Linked DNA regions of Homo sapiens: regions 2 and 3 are each linked to region 1. Evidence: fine-mapped expression QTL. A gene starts in region 1. Each other region holds a variant in brackets. All regions are shown on one strand. Distances are between the middles of the regions.

What was found. PIP is the estimated chance that this variant, and not a neighbour inherited with it, causes the effect.
Region 2: its variant is fine-mapped to the expression of PHF20 in whole blood (TOPMed, PIP above 0.99).
Region 3: its variant is fine-mapped to the expression of PHF20 in tibial artery (GTEx, PIP 0.90).

The regions. Positions count from the first base shown.
Region 1 is chr20:35,768,761-35,776,346 of GRCh38, forward strand. It overlaps PHF20 (PHD finger protein 20), which reads left to right and starts at 3,255. Exons shown (of 18, transcript NM_016436.5): 1 at 3,255-3,319. It also overlaps the pseudogene LOC124904972. RefSeq lists silencers at 3,323-3,702, 4,707-5,001.
Region 2 is chr20:35,902,945-35,910,530 of GRCh38, forward strand. The region is part of intron 10 of PHF20 (PHD finger protein 20); the gene reads left to right. Among named protein-coding and RNA genes, the nearest start is that of SCAND1, 48 kb to the right of the region's middle. RefSeq lists an enhancer at 3,679-4,179. The variant C/T (reference allele first, on the strand shown) is at 4,165.
Region 3 is chr20:36,541,499-36,549,084 of GRCh38, forward strand. MYL9 (myosin light chain 9) reads left to right here and starts at 21. Exons shown (of 4, transcript NM_006097.5): 1 at 21-63; 2 at 3,361-3,570; 3 at 6,534-6,695; 4 at 7,579-7,586. The coding sequence starts at 3,387. All of the region lies in intron 2 of DLGAP4-AS1 (DLGAP4 antisense RNA 1), which reads right to left. RefSeq lists a silencer at 1-41 and enhancers at 822-1,475, 1,476-2,129, 2,130-2,783, 2,784-3,437, 6,058-6,986. The variant T/G (reference allele first, on the strand shown) is at 4,161.

The sequences.
Region 1 (7,586 bases):
GTGACAACTCTTCCATGCAGGTAGATGCTTTTTGTGCTATCCTATACTTTGTATGGATGCACACAGGGTTTCATTGTGGAGCTCTCAGCTTATGGGCTGGGACTACAGTTTTGAAATACAGTATTAGTAAGATGCTGGGGAGGATCTTAAGGCAGAAGGTAGATGTTACTTCTGGTCTAAAGTCAGTGGACTTTAGACCAAAATCTTGTAAACTGGAGCTCTCTGGCTAGCATTCCATTAATATTCAGTTCAGAAGAAGCTGGTAAGTCAAATTTCTGCAAGTTTTTACATCAGAAAGAGCTTAGCTCACAAGGTACTTTTTTCTCATCTGTATTCAGTTATTTTTCCCTGATCAGTGTCAGTCTCCTTCCAACCCTCACTTCCCATCTTGGGGAGTACCCTTAGGGGCAGGTCATTCCTCTCTTCTTTCCCTGGCAGGCTGGACTCATCCATGTGACCTGAGATTGGCCAATCGACAGTGGCTGCTGGCCAAGACCTTGCCTCTTGAGTGAGTGACTCAAAGACAAAGGGATACTAAGATTGAATCACAGCAGTGGTGCGCAGTGTTGCTGGGGGCAGCAGCTGTTGTTGCTCTTTCTTGGTGGAGCTGTCCTTGTGCCTGTTTGTTTTCCAAGCCTGCACTCCTGTTGTAGCTCAGGGGCCCTTGTAACATATTTCTCTTTTGCTTGCCATGATTACTTCACCAGTCTGTGAGCTCCTCGAGAGCAGGGCCTAAGTCTCATTGTGCTCTGAGTGTTTGGTGCCCATCTTGAATTTGACTCTCGGTAAATGCAGGTTGAATAAGTAAAGAAACATGCTATATTTATACGGGGCTACAGAGTCTGGAGTTCTTGGCATTATTGTGGTTGGGGGGCAAAAAGTTCTTTGTGTGCTACCATAGCCACTGACATCTGAGCAATTTCATATTAATAAACATAAACCCAGAGGATCTTGGGAAGGCCCTTCCTATATGTGAGCACTTACTTGACTGAGTGGCACTGATTCTCAAATTGCTGATTTTTTAAAAAGTATGAAATGTATCATGAATTTGCATGCTTATCCTTATGCAGGGGTCATGTGAATCTTTTCTGTATTGTTACAATTTTATTTTATTTTATTATTATTTTTTGAGATGGAATCTTGCTCTATCACCCAGGCTAGAGTGCAGTGGTGCTATCTCGGCTCACTGCAACCTCTGCCTCCAGGGTTCAAGTCATTCTCCTGCCTCAGCCTCTCAAGTAGCTGGGACTACAGGCATGCACCACCACACCTGGCTAATTTTTGCATTTTTAGTAGAGAGAGGGTTTCACCATGTTGGCCAGGCTGGTCTCGAACTCCTCACCTCAGGTAATCTGCCCGTCTTGGCCTCCCAAAGTGCTGGGATTACATGCGTGAGCCACCGCGCCCAGCCATGTTACAATTTTAATAGAATACATGTACTGCCCAAGCAAGTGTAGCTGAAGCTTTTGTCCCTGGTTCCACAGTGTCTCTACCTAAGGGCTGCTCTTTGCCCTGACTACCTCAACTGAGGCAATACCCTCCTTAGTTTCCAGCCCTGGTTTAAAAAGCACCCCTCAGGCTGGATTTGCTGGCTGAGGCCTGTAATTCCAGCATTTCTGGAGGCTGAGGCAGGAGGATCACTTGAGCCAAGGAGTTTGAGACCAGCCTGGTCAACAAAGTGAGACCCTGTCTCTAAAAAAAAAAAAAAAAAAACTCGGCCGGGCACGGTGGCTCACGCTTGTAATCGCAGTATTTTAGGAGGCCGAGGCGCGCGGATCATGAGGTCAGGAGTTCAAGACCAGCCTGGCCAAGATGGTGAAAACCCGTCTCTACTAAAAAAAATATAAAAAATTAGCTGGGCGTGGCGGCGTGCGCCTGTAATCCCAGCTACTTGGGAGGCTGAGGCAAAGAATTGCTTGAACCCGGGAGGCAGAGGTTGCAGTGAGCCAAGATCGCACCACTGCACTCCCGTCTGGGCTACAGAGCGAGACTCTATCTCAAAAAAAAAAAAAAAAAGTGGCCAAGTACGGTGTTAATTCCAGCACTCTGGGAGGCTGAGGTGGGTGGACTGCTTGAGCCCAGGAATTCAAGACCAGCCTGGGCAACATCGTGAAACTGCGTCTCTACAAAAAAATGCAAAAATTAGCCAGGTGCACACCTGTGGTTCCAGCTATCTGGGAGACTGAGGTGGGAGAATTGCTTGGGCCTAGGAGGTGGAGGTTATGAGGAGCCGAGACTGCGCCACTGCACTCCAGCCTGGGTGACACAGTGAGACCGTGTCTCAAAAAAAAAAAAAAATTAGCTAGGCATGGTGGCATGGGCCTGCAGTCCCAGCTACTCAGAAGGTTGAGCTGGGACCACAGGTGCGCACGTTCACGCCTGGCTAATTGTTGTATTTCTTGGAGAGACGGGGGTCTAGCTATGTTGCCCAGGCTGGTCTCGAACTCCTGAGCTCAAGTGATCTACCCACCTCAGCCTCTCATAGTGTTGGGATTACAGGCGTGAGCCACTGCTCCTGGTCTCATATTCTTTTGGGGTGGCTTCAACTCCGACCTTCGTCCCCAGAGAAAATACAGCTCCTTATCCTTAGCAGCAATTGGAAACCTTTCTAGGAGTTAATGATAAAGTGGGGGAGAAATGAGTGCAAAGGCTCTGAGATGAGAAGAACCTGGATTGTTAGCGGAGTTGAAGGACACTGAGAATGTGGGGGAGCTGGATTCGTGAGGATAAGAAAGCAGCAGGTCAGGTCCAGACTTTGAAGAGCCTGGTAGATAGTCTAGGTGAAGAGTTAGATCTTAATCCGGAGTAGGGAGGGAAACGAGCTTTGAGCAGGGGATGGCGTTTTGAAAAGACCTCTCTGCCGGTGTACGAAGAATGGATTAGAACGGCGAAGAGTAATAGGGTGGAAACCATCTTCATCTTGGAGAGAGATGGTGGTCGCTTCGATGGAGAAATGGGAAGCTTTGAGACGCATTTAGGTGGCAAAATTAACGGGTGATGGATAGCGTCCATTCCCCGGCTTCGGTGATCTCAGTGATTACGAGTGAGTGGGGACTTCGTGTTCCTGCTAGGGCGCGGGCCTGTTTCCCGCGCGTCAGGGTAGTGGGCGTGGCCTGCGCAGGCCGTTGCCACAGTGATCGGGCAGACGGGGCAGGGGGCGGGGCAGCTGGGACCTTACGTCACTCGGTGGTGGCGATGATGCGTGTGTGTGGGGGGCGGGGCATACGCTGGGCGCGTCCCGGGGGTCACGTGGTGCAGAGCACGCAGAGTCCTTCTGTCGGTTGGTCCTGGAGCGGCGCAGCCGGAGTGGGGCCGTGAGGTGAGCTCGCGGCCAGGCGAAGCCGGCCGGCCGGGCCGGGTTGGGCCGGGCCCGCGCTGCGCGCGCGCCGTGCGGGCGGGGACGGCGACGGACGCCACCGCTGCTTCGGTCCCCTGCCCGGCCCCGCTCCCCGCCTGGCCCCGCTCGCCCAGCCTGGAGGGAGGCCCTGGGACTGCTGCTGAGAGCGTGGCGGGCGTGCGAGCGGTGCCCAATCCCCGGGGCTACCCGCAAGAGTGGCGGCGGCTGCCGCCAATCAGCGCCGCCCGAGGGGGCTGGGCCGTGGGGTGCGGGCCCGGGGCGCGGAGCGGGCCGTGTTGGGGGTGCGGGTAAGCCCTAGGGCCCGAGCCTGAGCTGTGTGGGCACCTAGAGCCTCATCAGCAGCCTCTGCTATTGCCTTGCGCTTTGGGAATATGTTTTTTAAAATTGGCTTTTTTTATCCTATTCTGGGGAGCACATTCCTTTCTCAAGACCCCAAATATGGGAGTGTCCCTTTTCTCTATAGTTTTGAAAACTGGGCGGCACACCCCCTTTCTTAAGCTCTAGCTCTGGAATTTTATCTAAATTTCTAAAAGCCCTCCCCCCCCCAAATTTAGGGCGTACCCTCTTCCGTCAGCCCCCAAAGTGGGAGCACATTCCTTTTTTCGGGCCTCCAATTTGATTCTGCATTTCCGTTCCAATTTAGAGGTTCACCCTGTTATCGGGTCCTCAGATCTGGGGTCCATTAGCTAAAGTTTTGGGATACTTTCTTGTATCCCCTCTACTCCAAGGAAGAATTCCCCTTTTCCAGGTCCCAAATCTGACAGCATGCCTTCTGGAATTTCTTACATTTAGGGGCCACTTCCTTTCCTCAGCCCTTCAAACCTGAGGTTGGGCCGAAAACAATGTCCAAATTTTGAAGTTTATGGGTACTTATTTCCAGTTTCACAAATAAGGGAATTCACTGCCTTCTCCCGAGACTGTATTATTGGGGTTACACACTTTTCACGTGTTCCCCAAATCAAACTACCTTATTTCCTGAAGGAGACTCATTTTCATATCTGGGAGTATATTTGTTTCTTGTGCCCCCCAAATGTACGAGGTGAACCCCTTTTAGTTATACAACTCTCAGAGTGCAGCCACTTTCCAGATGCTTCTTAAATTTGGGGGGCACACCTTTTTGTGAGTCCTCTCATTTCCAGGTGGCGAGTGGTCTGTGGTTTTGAGCATGCCTTCCTACCCTGTTTAGCTTTTCTGTCATCCAAGACATTTTCATTCCTCAGTTTCCTTCCCTTTTTGGAGCCACACTCCCCTTGAGGTGCTTTCCCCAGTCTGGTCAGTGCACCCATTTCCTCTTCCTCTGGCGAGTGCGTATCTTTGTTCAGCACGGCACTTTTCTCTGTGCTTCTGCGGGCTTTTCTTCTGAGCACACTTCCCAGAGTCACACCTCCTGAATTCTCCTCTCCTCCCAGGGAAGGATTCCTCTCCTAAAGGGCTACCAGCACATTGTTTTTGATAGGCCTATCTTTTATCTTTCCGCTAGCAGGATCTCTTCTCTCTTGGCTTGCCCAATCCCCAAACATTTTTCTGGTTTCTGTCTTTCTTTGGAATTGTTCTGTTTACCTAGTGGCTATAAAGATTTTCCTTGTGCTGGAGGTGGCCTCAAGTCTAGGACTGCCTGGGCCCCCAGCGCTGGATTCAAAGTGGAAACCATTTCTTTGGTTAATCACAGGACTCTGAATCCTCCTGGTGGTTTACTTCTAGAAGACCTAAGATTCTGTTTAGGTGCATACTGTTTTCTCCTTTGCTTTATCTCCTTGTGCTGGAAAACAAAAACAAACAAAACTCTCAGATTTTTCCAGCACTGCTTCTAGCCCATAAACTTCTTCCCTATATTGGCTTTCTTACTATCTTTTATGAAGAAAAGATGTCGTTTGGAGGAATCCCTTGGATACTCTTTTTGTTCTTGTCCCTGGGGTGTCGGTGGGGAAATGGATATTTTTCTCTCCCAATCATCCTCTTGTCAATCTTCTTTTTTTTTTTTTGAGACAGAGTCTCGCTCTGTCGCCCAGGCTGGAGTGCAGTGGCGCGATCTCGGCTCAGTGCAAGCTCCGCCTCCCGGGTTCACGACATTCTCCTGCCTCAGCCTCCCGAGCAGCTGGGACTACAGGCACCCACCACACCGCGCCCGTCTAATTTTTTTGTTTTTAGTAGAGACGGGGTTTCACTGTGGTCTCGATCTCCTGACCTCGTGATCCACCCGCCTCCGCCTCCCAAAGTGCTGGGATTACAGGCGTGAGCCACCAAGCCCGGCCAACCTCTTGTCAATCTTTACCCCCAATCCTCACATTAAAATCTGCAAATATCTGGGACCTCCTATCTCTTAAGAGCCTCAATAGTTCTTTCTTTTGTGTTTCCTTCTGCCTTTACAGATCTTATTCAGGGCTTCTCAGCCTGAACCCCCAACCAGATTAATTTCTCCACAGCTGGAATTCCAAGTGCTTGGGGATAATGATACCTCTGACCTTTCTTCCTTTTGGGAAGTACTTGAGTGTGCAGCTGCATGAGGCCTCAGCAGGAGAGAGATTTTAGGTCCAAGAAGCTATACCAGTAGGACAAGGCAGGAAAATACTACACTTTCAGGATCAAGCCCCTCTGACTCTCATTTGGAAACTGGATGTTTGCTAAGCACCTGCTTCTTAAGGATGCCGAGGGATTTAATGATACTCCCAGAAACCTGGAGAGATTAATGGGGCCTATGGAGAAGTGCTCTGAACTCAGTGTTGGGACTTGAATAAAATTAACCATTGTCATGTTTTCAGAACAACTAAGCTGTTTTATATTTCATGTGCATGAAAGCCCTAGAACTAAGTTGTGTTATTTCCAGAAATGAAATAGATCCCACAGTTAGATGATGTGGCCATTAGGAAGTACCAAATTTATAAAAATCACTGGAGGTCTGTCTGAGCAGTACCTAATAAAATATAGTATACTGAAAGTGAACAGATACTTTGTCTCTTTCTTTGGCTGCTTGATACTTTATCTGTGTACTGCCGTACAGTGCACCCTTAAAGTATTCTACACCAGTGCTTCTCAAACTTGAATGTGCATGTAAGTCACCCAGGGGTCTTGTTGAAATGCTGATTCTGATTTGGTAGATCTAGGATGGGACCTGAATGCATTTCTGATTTGCAGGTGATGCTGATGTTACTGAACTACACTTTTAGTAGTGAGGTTTCATACACGAAGACAAAGTTTCTCTGTGAAAATAGGAAGGTGGTGGTTAGCCTTATATTTTTTTATTTTATCTTTATCCAGACACACATCCCTTAAAAGTTTGTACAAGGCCATAGTCCCCTTTATTAGTTATACTCAATTAGTTATTCTAGCACATAGCTTTTTAAATATTGGCCAAAACTGGCTGGGCACGGTGGCTCATGCTTGTAATCCCAGCACTTTGGGAGCTGAGGCGGGCAGATCACGAGGTCAGGAGTTCGAGACCAGTCTGGCTAACACAGTGAAACCCTGTCTCTACTAAAAATAGAAAAATTACCTGGGTGTGGTGGCAGGCACCTGTAATCCCAGCTACATGGGAGGCTGAGGCAGAATACTTGCTTGAACCCGGGAGGCGGAGGTTGCAGTGAGCCAAAATTGCACCACTGCACTCCAGCCTGGGCCACAGAGTGAGACTCTGTCTCCAAAAAAAAAAAAAAAAAAAAGGCCAAAACTTCTCCAGGAGTTTGGTTTCTGTGTGTATATATATATATTTTGGGTGGGGACAGGGTCTCATTCTGTCACCCAAGCTGGAGTGCAGTGGTGTGATCACGGCTTACTGCAGCCTCAACCTTCTGGGCTCAAGCGATCCTCCCCTCAGCCTCTTGAGTTTCAGGGACCACTGGCACGTGCCACCACACCTGGCTAATTTTAAATTTTTTGTAGAGATGAGATCTTGCCATTTTGCCCAGGTTGGTCTTGAACTTCTGGGCTCAAGCAGTCCTCCACCTTAGCTTCCCAAAGTGTTGGGATTATAGGTGTGAGCTGCCATGCCTGGCTATTGCCAAATTTAAATGGTTACATATTTCTTACTTGAATGTGAACATAATTATTGATATAGAATCATTCTAATAAATACTGCATAGCCAGCTTGTCTGTCTGGTTCCTCATCCTACCATGAGTAGGGAGTCTGTGATACCCCAAATCAGTGGGTCACAGGTGTTGGAATTTCCAAAGAGTCCTTCTTGGTTTTCTGGGTTCTGGAAATGGGCCAGGAAAAGCCAGGATAAAGCTATGT
Region 2 (7,586 bases), 130 kb after region 1:
TACAAAACCAATAGACAAGACATTGCCATTTTGGTATAATTAAGAAGCCTGAGTGACTGATTTTCTTTTCTTTTTTCTTTTTTTTTTTTTTTGAGTGATTTTCGTTTCCTTTCCTTTCCTTTCCTATCCTTTCTTTTTTTTTTTTTTTTTTGAGTAATTGATTTTCTACTTTCATGTCTCCCTCTTGGGTCTCATGCATTATACTGACCTGGGATTTTATTCTCTCTGTTAATACTGAAGGATCCTTTTCAATGGGATTTGGAAATTTCTTGGTGAATTGGAGATTTTTGTTTACCAGTTTTTAAAAATAAGGCCTGCTGTATACTCACTAGACTAGTAGGGTTGGACAATTATAAAATGCTTTAAGGGAAACAAGAGTCTTTTAAATCCCTATGCTTTAACTTGTTGCCAAAAGGTTTTTTAAGTCCTTATGTTTTAATTTGTTTAAAGTGGTCCTTTGTAAAATTGATCAATTTAGCAGCAGAATGTGCCACACAGACCACTCACCCACTGTTTGATCATTTCTGTACCCTCTCAGTGAGGGCACAGTCTGATCATTTCTGTACCCTCTCAGTGAGGGCAGGATTTGTGCAGCCAGGAAGGAATGTACCCCCATCCACATGTCAAGTGGACACAGCCTCCTAGACAACATGGCGATTACCCAAATGTATCTCCCATGCCTCATTGCTGATACGTTTAGCAGTTACCAGACCGAAGGAACTAGACCATCCATCTTGCTGTGATCCAGATGGAAAATTGAAAGCCTGGCCACCAGCCCTGACTGTGCCACTAACCAGCAAGAGCCTCGGTATTATCATATGTGGATGGGGCTCAGTAGACATGTTCAGTGTTTATCACGTAGCTGGCTATCAATGAGAGTGAACATAGTAGTGTATGCTGAAGATTCTGTAGTGTGGCTGCCTTATTCTGCTGCAGCTCTCCAGAAGGCACCCCTGTTCCAGGCATCACCCCTTACCTTTCTCCCATCAAAGCCTTGCCCCAGTTTGTCAGGGTTTTACTGGATACTTGACTAATCTGATAACCAAAAATTTGAAAGAATAGAACCAACTTAATAGTATTGTGGTTTCACCTCAGGCTTCTGAGAATGCTCTTATCAGGGTGGAATTTCAGACAGTGTGGGGAGTTCAGTTGGGGAGACGTTTCACTGGGAGACGTTTCACAGTGGGACTCTGATACCAGGCAGCCTGTGTTTTAGTTTACAGGCAGTGTGAACTTGACATTCTGCTTAAGTGAAAAACAGAATATTATAGGATTTGTGCTGCGTGATAATAGTAACTGTAAAAAAGTACCCCCTTTATGCTGAATGCTCTGATTTTTTTTTTTTTTTTTTTTTTTTTGAGACAGAATCTCACTCTGTTGCCCAGCCTGGAGTGCAGTGGCGTGATCTTGGCTCACTGCAACCTCTGCCTTCGGGGTTCAAGCAATTCTCCTGCCTCAGCCTCCCAAATAGCTGGTATTACAGGCATTCACCACCACACCCAGCTAATTTTTGTATTTTTAGTACAGATGGGGTTTTGCCATGTTGTCCAGGCTGGTCTTGAACTCCTGGCCTCAAGTGGTCCCGAACTTGGGTTCTCATGGATTTCTCTGATGGAGATTCCTGGGGCTTCCAGCAAAACCACTGGGACTCGAAAGTACCCTGCAGAGATTTCTTGGCTTTGGACTCCTCAATATCTGGGTTGGTAAGGTTGGGCAGAAGTAGTAGTTCTGGTCTGAGAGTCCGTAGACTGATCTTAGTAGCAACCTGCCACTGTTCCCTTTGTGATCTCAGGCAGGTCTCTTCACAGATCTGATTTCTTTTCTCCTTCCTTCCTTCCTTCCTTCCTTCCTTCCTTCCTTTCTTTTCTTTCTTTCTCTTTCTTTTTTTTTGTTTGTTTGAGATGAAGTTTCACTCTTGTTGCCCAGGCTGGAGTGCAATAGTGCGATCTTGGCTCACCACAACCTCCGCCTCCCGGATTCAAATGATTCTCCTGCCTCAGCCTCCCGAGTAGCTGGGATTACAGGCGTGCACCACCATGCCTGGCTAATTTTGTATTTTTAGTAGAGACTGGGCTTCTCCGTGTTGGTCAGGCTGGTCTCAAACTCCCGACCTCAGATGATCTGCCTGCCTTGGCCTCCCAAAGTGCTGGGATTACAGAGATGAGCCACCGTGCCTGGCTGATCTCCTCATTTCTAAAGTGATGATGTAGAGCTAGGTATGCATGAGACCAGGCCCTTTCATGTGGGGAGAAAAGCTCATAAACAACGTGAGAAAGCTAAGTTCTGTGTTAGGAACATGTAAAGTGCTGTGGGAACACAGATTCAGATTTTGCCTGTAGGGTAGGAGCTGGACTGTTGAGAGGAGAAGGTGACATTTGAGTTAGGCCTTGCTGTGAATTGAATTGTGTCCTGCCTTCCTCCCTAAAATTCATCTGTTGAAGTCCTAACCCTCAGTGTGATGGTATTTGGCAATAATTAAGTTTAAATGATGTCATGAGGTTGGGGCCTTCATGATGGGATTAGTGGCATTATAGGAAGAGATCAGAGCTCCCCCTATCCCCCCATGTGAGGATGTAGCAAGAAGATGGCCATCTGCAAACTGGGAAGAGGGGCCTCACTGGGAACCAAATAGTCTGGCACCTTGATCTTGTAGTTTCCAACCTCCAGAACTGTGAGAAAGAAATATCTGTTGTTTAAGCCACATATAACATAATGTTTTGTTATAACAGCCTGAGCAGACTAACCCACGCCTTAAGGAGTGAGGCTAGATAGGAATTGGACCAGAAGCCGGGAAGAGGAAAAGCATCCCTGTGCCAGGAATAGGCATAGCAAGGGTTCAGAGGCATCAAGGGGAATAAACCAATCATCTGTCCCTAAGGTGCCCCTTCTGATGCCAGCCTTCTGTAATCCTGTCACTCATATGGTTCTTCTGCTCTCAGCCAAGCCTTTAGTTGCAAAATGAATTTAGAAGGTCAGTTTAGATTTGCTTTTCCAAATGAGGTTTCTCAGTATACCAGAGTCACTTAATAAATTCTCTTCCAGTAGCCAGCTCAGGCTCCCTTGGGTTTCTTTCTACTTAGGTGAGTTCAGTCCTGAATACAGGTTAGGCTCAGAAAGAATTTTCTAGTGTCAAAGAGGGCCTCTCCTGTGCTTATTATTACTTATTGCTACATCTGTTTGAGTCGTGCTCTCACCCTGGGTAAACCTCAGTTTTAGGCCAAAGTGAGCCTTGGGGCACTGGAGTGGGCACCTCTTCATTGCCATCCACACCTTTTCTCATGGGACTACACTGGCCTTATCGCAGGAACATGTCCTCCTCCCCTTAAAACAAAAAGAGCAGTGTGAGCTTAATTAGAATATGGATTATAGTGCCATAACAGAGAGAACAACATAGCTGGCTAAAATCAGAGAAGTTTATTTCCCTCTCAGGATGAACTGCAAGTTACCCATGGTGGCTGTGCTCAGGCTCTGAAGGTCCCCGGGCCTTGCTTTCTCCCCATTGTTCCACCAGGCTCTAAAGGTCCCTGGGCCTTGCTTTCTCCCCGTTTTTCCACCAGGATCTGAAGGTCCCTGGGCCTTGCTTTCTCCCCGTTGTTCCACCAGGCTCTGAAGGTTCCTGGGCCTTGCTTTCTCCCCGTTGTTGCCCCAGGTGCTGCTCTTCTTTGGTGTCCAAAATGGCTCCCTGCCTTGCTTATCTTTCAGCTGCTGGGAAGGGAAGTGAAGGGAAAGTATGCTCCTTTCTTTTAAGGCACAACCCAGAAGTGCCACACATCACTTCTTGTATCCGATAGGCAGAACATCTGCCACCCCTCTCTCAAGGGAACATGGAACATGAACTCTTCCTATGGAAGAAGTGGAGAAATAGTGTTGGGAAGGGCACTGCAGCCTTTACCACATGAGCTAAGAAGAATGCAGGGCTTGAGGAGGGAGGGGTTATTGGAGGGCCATCCTGGGTTGGTATCTGGGTGGGACTCATGGTAGGGGACTGATAGGAGATGAGATTGGGAAGGTAGACATGGTGAAATGACAGTGGCAGACCCTGACTACCACTTCTCTGATAGGCAGAGAGAACCCCTCCAAGCCCATATCTGCTTCTGTCTGCCCTTGAGCTACCACCCCCTTGTGCAGATCAGAACATGCTCTGGTCAGTGCTTGTCCCAGCCT[C/T]GTGGCTGAGCTCTGTGGTGTACAAGCAGTTACCCCATAGGTGGTGGTGATGCTATTCTTTTCCCTCCTGGAAGCGGCGGTCTGATGACAGTTGTCCCTCTGCTCTCATAAATCAGTGACTGGATGGAATACTCAAGAGTCAGCTGTATGGAGGAGCAAGAGGGCCTCTGGTATTTCTCCTGATGGACACCTGCAGCTTGGGGAGAGGACAAGTGGCCATCCTGGAGGAAAGCCTCACCCTGCTTAGGTGACAAGCTGCTCTCTGATCCAGAGCCTGGCAGGAAGTCACTCTTTGTCCAACCTAGTCAGGGCAGCCGGGAGGAAGCTCCACAGCCAGTACATGCTCTGTGGGTCATGGAACAATTGGTAAAGCTGTCCAGAGAGAGAGTTGACAGCAGACCAGCGACCAGCACTGCTTTCCAGGGAAAGAATATTGCAAGCAAGATAATAACAGCTGACATTTGAGTACTTCATGTGCTGGGCGCTGTTCCAAGTTCGTTACTTGTATTGTCTTATTTAGTTATCAGAACAAACCCTCTGAGGTGGGTGCTGTTATGCCTAATTTATGCAGTTATTCCACTGTGGTCTCAGAGTGTGGTTGATATGATTTCAATGATTTGAATTCACTGATACTTGGTTTATGGCCAAGCATGTGGTCAATTTTAGATTATTTGCCATTTGCAGATGGGTGGAATGTATAGTTTGTCATTGCTGGATTTAAGTCCAGTATTTCTTTGTTTTTTGCCTCGATGATCTTTCTAATGCTGTGTCAGAGGGGTGTTGAAGTCCCCCACTAAAATTATGTGACTAAGTCTTTCTTTAGGTCTGGAAGTACTTGTTTTAAGAATTTGGATGCTCTAATGTTGGCATATTAGGCATCTATAATGCCTAATTTATAGATTAGAAACTAAGGTGCAGATGAGATGGATTAATTTGAACCAATATTTACAGCTCTAGCAGGTGGTGGAGCCATGATTTGAATCTGTTGTGAAGCCCATACTCTCACTTTGAGGCTCTGCTGTCTTTTATGATTCCAGGGAAGAGTGCCTGTCCCAGGCCCTGGAGTGGGAGATAGGAGTGCCTCCCTGCAGGAGACTTCCTGTGCACCTGGCAGTCTGGGGATTTCTGCCTGTTGTCACCTTGTCTACTCCTGTTCCTCAGGGACTCACCTGCCTTAGCTCAGTCCTTGCTGGGCAATTCTCTGTGTCTTTTCTAGGGCCTGCAAGTTCTGCCACTGGAGTTTACAAATGACCACTATCTTTAGCCAGATAACCAGGTATGCCCTAGCATTGGGCAGTTTTCCTCTACATCTTGCCCTCTCTGTCTCAAGGATTTAGGACCTAGATTATGTTGCTGCTTCAGGCAGTTCTGCTGCTGACAAGATAAATTCTGTTAGCATTTCACTAAGCTGATGGGTATAATTACTTTAGTTGGAGGTCACTAAAACCTGAATTTACAAATAAAAACTGGATCAGGGAGCAGTCTGTGTGTGTGTTGTGGAGGAGTGTGGGTGAAGGTACAACAGATAATATCCCTCCTTTGCTGAGATCCTTCCAGTGGCTCCCTAAATCACTCATAGTAAAAGCCAACTTCCTCACAGGGCCCTTCATCATGTTCTGCTGCTAGCCTCCATCTGCTTCTTTCCCTTACTCAACCTAATTCTAATTTCAGTTCCATTGGAGCCATACAGATCTCCTTGCTATTTCTTTATTTCAAATTCCAGTTATTCATTGCTGGCATATAGAAAAGCAATAGATTGTTGTATATTAACTTTGTGTCTTGTAACCTTGCTGTAAGTGCTGTTCTGGCAGTCTTTGTTTTGATCAATTCTTTGGGATATTCTACATAGACAGATCATCTGCAAACAAAGATAGTGTTATTTCTTCCATTTCAATCTGTAGAGCTTTTATTTCCTTTTCTGGCTTATTCCACTCGCTAAGATTTCCAGTAAAATGTTGAATAGGAGTAGAGAGAGAGGCACCTTGCTTTGTTCCTGATCTTAAGGGGAAAGCATCCAATTTCTTACCATTAAGTATGAAGTTGGCTGCAAAGAAGTTCTTTATCCAGTTGAGGAAATTCCCTCCTATTCATAGTTTGCTGCCCCATCAGCTTTTTAGGTTGGTGCAAAAGTAATTGTGGTTTTTGCTGTGACTTTCAGTGGCAAAAACAGCAATTCTTTTGCACCAACTGAATAGAATGTAGCTCTGTGAGGGACAGGGGGTGTTATCTGTCTTTGTTCATTGCAATATCCCTCCTCCCTAGAATGTGCCTGGAACATAGTATATGCATGGTATCTGTTGCCTAAATGAATTGAAACCATGGCTAATAATACGGTGGTAGTCAAACTGTGTAAAAATGAGTTTTGTTTTTATGTTTGGGGAAGACCCTGTTCTCAGGATCAATGAAAAGTAAAAATGACTGATAGCTTTTTTGAAATTCAGAAGGCATCTGACCATGTTTTGCCAGTCTGCTGTCTTTGGGCCTTGGGTTTTTGGTTTTAAAAATGAGTGCTTTTACAAATTGGTCTAAGTTCTCTCCAGCTTTCATGTTTGTTGACTTTCTTTCTAGTTGCAGGGTATTTTAAAAGTTAAGGAGCTCAAATACCCTTAAGTCCTATGTTCTCTAGCCAGTAGATCAACTCTGCCTATAGATTCCAGGCTTGCCAGCCAGTAGGCACAGCCCACTCTTCCTTTCTGATGGTTACCAAGTGCTAATTTGGGAGAGGGGCCTGGGTTGCAGAGGAGACATGGTGCTGGAGAGTCAGACCAATTTGCTTTTAAATACCTATGTGATGTCAGGTGGGTGATTTCACCTCTCTGAGCTTCAGTTTCCCGGCCTGTAAAATGGGAATGATATACACACAAGTTGTTGTAAGGATTAAATGAGATATTTGTGGTTTCCTTGCACACAAGTGCTTAGTTAAAATGGAATCTGATTGTCTACCCTGCCTCACACCTGCTTTGTGGATATCTTGATTCCATATCAGAATCACTTGGAAAGTTTTAAAAATCCTGATATCCTTGAAAACATCATGCTAAATGAAAGAAACCAGACACAAAAGGTCACATATTGTATGGTTCCATATTTATGAGATATCCAGAGTAGATAAGCCCATGGAGTCAGATGCAGGTTGGTGGGGCTGAGGGGAAGGGCTTAGGGGAGGGGAAATGCTGCTTAATGGTAAAGGGTTTTACTTTGGAGTGATGGAAATGTTCTTAGAACTATATCAAAGTGGTCGTACAACATTGTGAATGTACTAAATGCAACTGAATTGGTTGTTTTTCTTTACAGCTGTATCGAGACTTAATTGTACAATGAACTACACATATTTAAATGGTATAATTGGTGAGATTTGACATATGTTTATACCCAACTATCACCACAATCAAGATAGTAAACATATTCCATTCCCTCCCAAACTT
Region 3 (7,586 bases), 770 kb after region 1:
CCAGACCCGACGGCCGGCCCAGTTCCACGCACCCAGCGAGCCCAAGCGCCTTCTCCGCACCAGGTGGGATCCGGGGCCCCGGGGGTCTTGAGGACAGGCCTAACGGCCCAGGGCTGGAGATGAGAGGTGGCCCGGGCCCGACCCGGCTGTCACGGGGGGCAAAGGCGGGCCCCACGGACTGGGACGTGGTAGGGTCTGTTGGGCACGGACTGAGGGGTGAGCTGGGGCAGCGAGTTTGCTGGGGGCCGACAGGGACTCTGGCCAGGGGCCGGGCAGCAGGAAGGCTGTTCTGGCCTCTGAGAAGCAGTGGTCCTGCGGCAAGGGAAGGCCATCGTCCAGGCCCTGCCCCTTTGCTGAGGAGCTGGAGATGCCAAGCCCAGAGCTCCGGGGGGGGCTGGGGAGCCCGGGTACAAGGGTGCTGGGGAGAGGGTTGCAGTCGTCAGTTCCCCCTGGCCCAGTAAAGGCATGTGTGTCACAGATGGAGAAACAGCCCTGTGGGACTCCACGCCCCCACAGCATCTGTGTCCCCTCCCCATCTCCCATCCCTACACCCTGGGCCAGGGGAAAGGGACCGAGACCAGGGGGCCCTTCCGACACAGCCAGTGCTGTATGCAGGGACCCGGGCCTTCCCCTCTCTGGGTCATCTCGCCTGTGGGTGGGGAAGGTCTGCGGAGGGCCCTGATGGACTCACCCCTAGGGGGCAGGACGAGGACTAGTGGCTGGGAGAACCTGATCCCTGCTCTTCCCAGCCCTCCAGCTGCTCTAAGGAGGAGACTCAGATGAGGTGCACTGAGAAGGAGGCATCTGGCCTGCCCAGCTCCAGGGGCTGGAGGTCATGGGGGCACTGCCCTGTGCTGGCTTCAGCCCAGCCTTTTCTGTTATGGTGGGAATCTGGACACCAGGATGGGGGACATGGCATCCAGTCACATCCAGGCCAAGTATCAGTGCTGACCCCTGGTGTCTAGGGCACCTGAAGGGGGAAGCGATGGCCTCAGAACTAAAGGCCCCACCCATGCCTGCCCCTCGCCCCTCCACCAGTTCTAGAAGGCGCCTCTGGATACACAGAGCCCTTTCCCACTCCACTGCCACAGGCCCGCCTGAGGACTGGGGCTCCCTGTTTTGTTCAAGCCTCGAGGGCACCAGCAGCCAAGTTTGCTCTCCACTGACCCAAACCTAGCCCAGGAATCCTGTCTTCCAGGTGGCCCCTCCCCCTCTCATGGGCACTCCACTCCCCTTCTGGGGCCTCTTTTCCTAGCTGCACCATGGGGGCACCCCTGCCTCCGCTCACCACTTCCCACAATTGCTGGGGTGGACATGGCGGCCTTGTGCAAGCCCTTAAGTACAGTGCTCCCAGCCACACCACAGCAGAGAGTGCAGACCGGGTGGCCATGAAGGCAGAGGGGCCCAGCTGGGCTCAGACCCAGCTGTGGGTGGCCTGGCCATGCCTGCCCTAGAGCTTCATAGAGTGTGGTGGGGACAGTGATGGCCATCACAGCCTCTGTTGGGCACAGTGCACTGCCTCTCTGCATGCAGCCTTCTGTGGGCACCAGGAGTCAAAGTTCCCGAGAACACTGGACTCAGGGAAGGACTAGGCCCCTCTAAAGCACGGGAGAGGAGGGGGCCGGCATCTGGGGACAATGGCACTCCCAACTAGGTCATGGGTGAGAAGGAATTCTGTCTACCTTCCTGAACCATGCAAGAAACACTGAGGGCTGGGTGTGTCGGTCCGTGGGACACGGGCAACCACTGTCTCATGACTACAGGCAGTGATGGCCCTGGGGACCAGCTGGGGCTGGCCGGGATCCCAGTCCAGGGTTGATGATCTCAAAGGCCAAGGACCGAGAATGACTTCAACAGAGTCATGGGAGGAAGGCCTGGAAACAGCTCAAGTTGCAACCACACAGCTTGGGGTGAACAACAGGCAGAGGAGGCTTCCTGGAGGCCCTGGGCCCGGGGGTTTGGGCAGAGGGAAGAGGGGCCGCAGTCCTGGAACCTCAGCCAGGCCCACTGCCCCAGCCGAGGGAAGGAGGCACTGGGTCTTCAGGCGCATATCCCCACAAGCTGTGGCAAGCATTCAGGGAAACAGTCCCAGGCCTGGTCTCAGTTTCCCCATCTGTACAGTAGAAGCAGCAGACTGGCCGTAGTTGCCTTCATATAGTCATTCATCAAACAAGCATCTGTTAGCCCAACTATGGCCTGGGATTGGTGTAAACTGGGGGATCTATGCTGGCCCACAAGGGAGAGAGATCTTTAAGTGTTTACTGTGGAAGCAAGGGTACAGGGAACAGCTCCCTAGGAGAGGGGGGCGGTCTCAAGAACTGGGCTGGAGAAGAAAGAGCACAGGGGAGGAGGGGACCACAGAGGAAAGCCTGGGAGTGTCCAGGGAACTGCAGAGGTCAGAAGGGTAGGATTGTGGGTCACAAGAGGGACACCACGAGGGCTGTCAGAGAGGCCAGGAGGGACTCACACAGGGCCTTGAATGCCAGGATGAGGGACCCAGACTTGCTCTGAGGGGCGGCAGGAACCTTCAAGGGCTTCACAATGATAGGTGTAGGTCAGGGTCTGTATGGGACAGAAGAGGCCGGCTGGAGGCTAAGAAGCCAGGTCTAAGCAAGGGTGAAGAAGCTGGGGTTCTCAGCCCAAGCAAGCCTCACACCCCGATAAGCAGTGGGGAGTGAGAACAAGGAGTGGGACCCAGGATCAGTCTGTGACCACTCACCACTGGGGGGCTGGTCAAGCTCCCTGAGGTGGACAGGCGGGGGTTTGACTGCCCAGAGCCTCCTAGAACCTCAGGCGGGCAGCAGAGGGATGGAGTGGGAGAGTGAGGAACGGCAGGAATGCAGGAATGCTGATCCAGCTCCTTCCTGCAGGGCCAGGGAGCCTGGATGGCAGCCCAGGAGAGCCCTCACTGACTCCCACGAGTGGACCCACCTTGTCACTTGGAAAGAGAGAGGGACAGTGTAAATGCTATTAAGGATTAAAGGAGATAAAGCATGGTAATGGTTGGCACCAAGCCCAATCCTAAGTGTTTTACCCAAACAGTCACAGCCAAAATAGCTGATTCCATGCCCGGCACTGTTCCAGGAGCTCTCGGGCACTGAGTCAGTTAATCCCTACTGCTGGGCACTCCTCATGTCTCCAGTCCCAGATGAAGACTCTCGGGCTCAGAGAGGTAGAGGAAGTTGTTCAGAATCACACAGCCACACTTGTCTGCTTTTGTGAAGAACTGGGTGGTGGGAGCCCCAAATCCGTGGGCAGCCTTGAATGCCAGGCCGAAGTGCTAAAAGCCAGTCTGGGGGAGGCAGGAAGATTCCCTGGCCCAGAGTCACAGGGCCACCCAACCCCCACCCCTTCCTGCAGGGAAGCCCCACCCACCAGAAGCCAAGATGTCCAGCAAGCGGGCCAAAGCCAAGACCACCAAGAAGCGGCCACAGCGGGCCACATCCAATGTCTTCGCAATGTTTGACCAGTCCCAGATCCAGGAGTTTAAGGAGGCTTTCAACATGATTGACCAGAACCGTGATGGCTTCATTGACAAGGAGGACCTGCACGACATGCTGGCCTCGCTGGGTGAGCTGGGACAGGGACAGGGGTGAGATGGATGAGGCCAGGCAGGCTCTGCCAATCATTTACAGGGCACCTCCTGTGTAGTGAGACGCGTGGTGTCCACCTTAGAGAATAGTTGCCATTAACTTAGTCCATTCAACAGGGAAACTGGGCCGGGCGCGGTGGCTCACGCCTGTAATCCCAGCACTTTGGGAGGCCAAGGCGGGCGGATCAATAGGTCAGGAGATCGAGACCATCCTGGCTAACACGGTGAAACCCTGACTCTACTAAAAATACCAAAAATTAGCCGAGCGTGGTGGCGGGCGCCTGTAGTCCCAGCTACTTGGGAGGCTGAGGCAGGAGAATGGCGTGAACCCGGAAAGCGGAGGTTGCAGTGAGCCGAGATCGCCCCACTGCACTCCAGCCTGGGCAACAGAGCGAGACTCCATCTCAAAAAAAAAAAAAAAAACAGGGAAACTGAAGCACAAAGCAGGTCCACCACAGGGTCTGAACGTAGACAGGCTGACTCCACAGTGGGCCTGTCTTAGGCAGATTTGTGCACTGGGCTGCCAGGTATCATTTCATTTAAAGAAAGGGGTCAGCTGGCCAGGCGC[T/G]GTGGCTCACGCCTGTAATCCCAGCATTTTGGGAGGCCAAGGCGGGCGGATCACGAGGTCAGAAGATCGAGATCATCCTGGCTAACATGGTGAAACCCCGTCTCTACTAAAAATACAAAAATTAGCTGGGCGTGGTGGCGGGCGCCAGCTACTCGGGAGGCTGAGGCAGGAGAATGGTGTGAACCTGGGAGGCGGAGTTTGCAGTGAGCCAAGATCACGCCACTGCACTCCAGCCTGGGCGACAGAGCAAGACTCCGTCTCAAAACAGAAAGAAAGGAAAGAAAGAGGTCAGCATCTAAATGAAAGTGTGAACTGCAGGCTGCCCACTGCACAGATGGGGAAACTGAGGCCTAGAGGGGCGGCCAGACCAGCTCCCCTCCTTCAGAGGTCACCCATCTCAGGCTCTCATAGCCTCTCTGGTCCCAGTGACTTCCTCAGGATCAGGACCTTAGAACTAACAGGGTACAAAAATCAAGTCCAATTCTCTACTGCAGATGGGGAAACACAGGCCCAGAGGCAAGGCCTCCACAGACCATGCCCCAACCCACGGGCCTGCCCCAACATCCCTCCCAAAGTGCTGGCCACAGCCAGCCACTCTCAGCCCAGTTCCCGCGTACCCCTCATGCCGAGTGACAGCATCCAGACCAGACACTGCCTGGGGGAGGGAGAGTCCAGGACCAGAGGACACAGCCCCGTGACAGTCAAGCCTCGAGCTTTGAGGCCAGAGAGTCAGTCCCTGGTAGGGCCCTGTGCACTTTCCTCTTCCTGTGAAATGGGGCCATGACCCTGACATTTCCCCACGAGGCACTGAGCAGGAGAACCAGGCAAACCTGAGTGGGAGAACTGACAGCACGCTGCCCCCGGCCCTGAGCACCAAACCTCTCCCCGCTTCTGGCCAGGCTCGCTTGAAGGCTCCCTCCCCCAGGAGGTCACCTGGCAGGAAGTAAACTCCAGGGTTCTTTTTTTTTCCCCCCGAGACAAAATCTCACTCTGTTGCCCAGGCTGGAGTGGCACCATCTCGGCTCACTGCAACCTCCGTCTCCCAGGTTCAAGAGATTCTCCTGCCTCAGCCTCCCCAGTAGCTGGGATTACAGACGTGCGCCACCATGCCCGGCTAATTTTTGTATTTTTAGTAGAGACAGGGTTTCGCCATGTTGGCCAGGCTGGTCTCAAACTCCAGAGCCCATCTTGGCCTCCCAAAGTACTGGGATTACAGGTGTGAGCTACCACGCCTGGCCAACTCCAGGGTTCTTATCTGGGGCTTTCCCAGCTTCGTGGAAGGACTGAGGCCTGGTGAGAGAAGGGGCTGGCCTTAAGTACCCCAGTGTCCTGGCGTCACAGCTCCTCTTGGGCCTCAGCTTCCATGGCCATCCCAGGGGGACACAGCAGGGTATGTGAGGCTCAGGGACATGAAAACTTCCTATTTCCAAGGCCACACCCTGCACCCAGGCCCCTGAACCCCTGAGACTTCATGACAGCCCTGGGTGTCCACCCAGAAAAACATGCACTGTGTTTGTAGCTCATATCCGTGGGTCTGCAGGTGAGTCACACCCTTATCTTCAAGTTAAAAACAAGAGCAGCAAATATAATAATAAGAAGAAGCCCTGCAGGTATTATCTTAAATCTCAAAGCAATCCTATTGAACAGATACAATTATTCCCACTTTACAAACAAGGAAACTGAGGCTCAGAGAGGTTAAGTAATTTACCCAAGGTCACACAGCTACCAAGTAGTGGGGCTGCAATAGAAACCCAGCAGTTGATTCCAGTCCATAGGCCTGTGCCAGTCATTGTTATGAGCCTTTTGCAACTACTGTCTTCACAATTCCCCTAAGAGATGGGGAAAACCAAGGTGCACAGCTGGGATCCAAACCCAGGCCTGTCTGACAGCAAAGCACTGTGTCTGGACTTTGGAGTTAGGCTGCCTGGGTTCAAATGCCAGGTCTACTCAAGTCTCCTCCTTACTTGCTGTCTGACCCTGGACAAGTCACCTGGCCTCTCTGTGCCTCAGCTTCCATACCTGTGAAGTGGGTAAGAATGCTGACTTCACAGGGTGGTGAAAGTTAAATGCAATAAGGCACGTGGTCGACCAGCCACAGCGAGCAGTCTGCAGAGGGTTGTTCTTATTACACTTTAGTGAGCACTGCCGGCTGCTGACATCCAGGCCACAGGAGGAAACTGGTGGGAGCAGCCAGGGACTCCGGGCGCCCACTGCTGTGGCTGCGCTAGAGCCATGCTTTCCAGTTCACAAAACCCACTACCTCCCGTCTCACACGGAGCGGTGAAGGGCAGGGGTGGGGGACGGGGGTGCAAGTTGTCCCAGCTGGGGACAGAGGGCCCAGGACCACAGGCTGGAACACCCCACCTGCCACAGGGAAGAACCCCACAGACGAATACCTGGAGGGCATGATGAGCGAGGCCCCGGGGCCCATCAACTTCACCATGTTCCTCACCATGTTTGGGGAGAAGCTGAACGGCACGGACCCCGAGGATGTGATTCGCAACGCCTTTGCCTGCTTCGACGAGGAAGCCTCAGGTCCGTGGCGCCCCCTACCACCACTCTGCATGCAAGTGGAACAGGGCCCAGGCATTCAGTGCCTCTGCCCCTAAGGGCCAGAACAGACATCACCCATCTCCCAGGTTCTGTCACCAGAACTATAAAAGCCAGGCCACCTCCTTATTGTCGCCGCAAAGGCTAGGCCAGAACAGCCCATGCCCCAAGACTCCTGCCTTCGTGATCTCCCCCGCTGGCCCAATGCACATTCTCCATCTGTTTTAGACCTTTCCAGAAATCAAACCATTTCATGCCTTTCTTGCCAAGAAGGTATAGAAACTGGCCCCCCTCCTCGGATCTCCTAACGGATATTCCATCCCTCAGCTCATTTTTCCCAGGGACATGTCAGGGTGATGATGGCCATGGTAACATGGCCATGGGCCCGCACGGGCCTGACTACCTTCACGGTCCCTCACTGCAATGGCATACGTTCATCCCTGTTTTCTAGATTAAACAGGCACACGGAGGTTAAGGACCTTGCCCAAAGTCACATAGCTAGGGAGAATGGGAATCAGCACTGCAACTCAGGCAGTGGAACTCCAGAGCTCACGCTTAAAACAGGGCACACCCAACACCATCTGTGTGCACAGCCTCAAGTTCCCCAAGTGACACCTCGGAGACAGTCCCACTGCACAACTCCTCCCCTCAGGACCCTGGCACCCCTTCACGTGGGATCCGACACCCCTTCACGTGCACCCCCACACCCCTCCTGCCACGTCCTCATTCCTCAGACTGACCAGAGACTAAGATTGTATCTTCCCAGCCCCTCTAGGTCTGCAAGAGCTGCCAGGGGGCTGAGGGATGGGGCTGCTGTGTATGTCTCAGCCCAAGTTCCTGCTCTCACCCACCCTGCCCCTGCCCGCAGGTTTCATC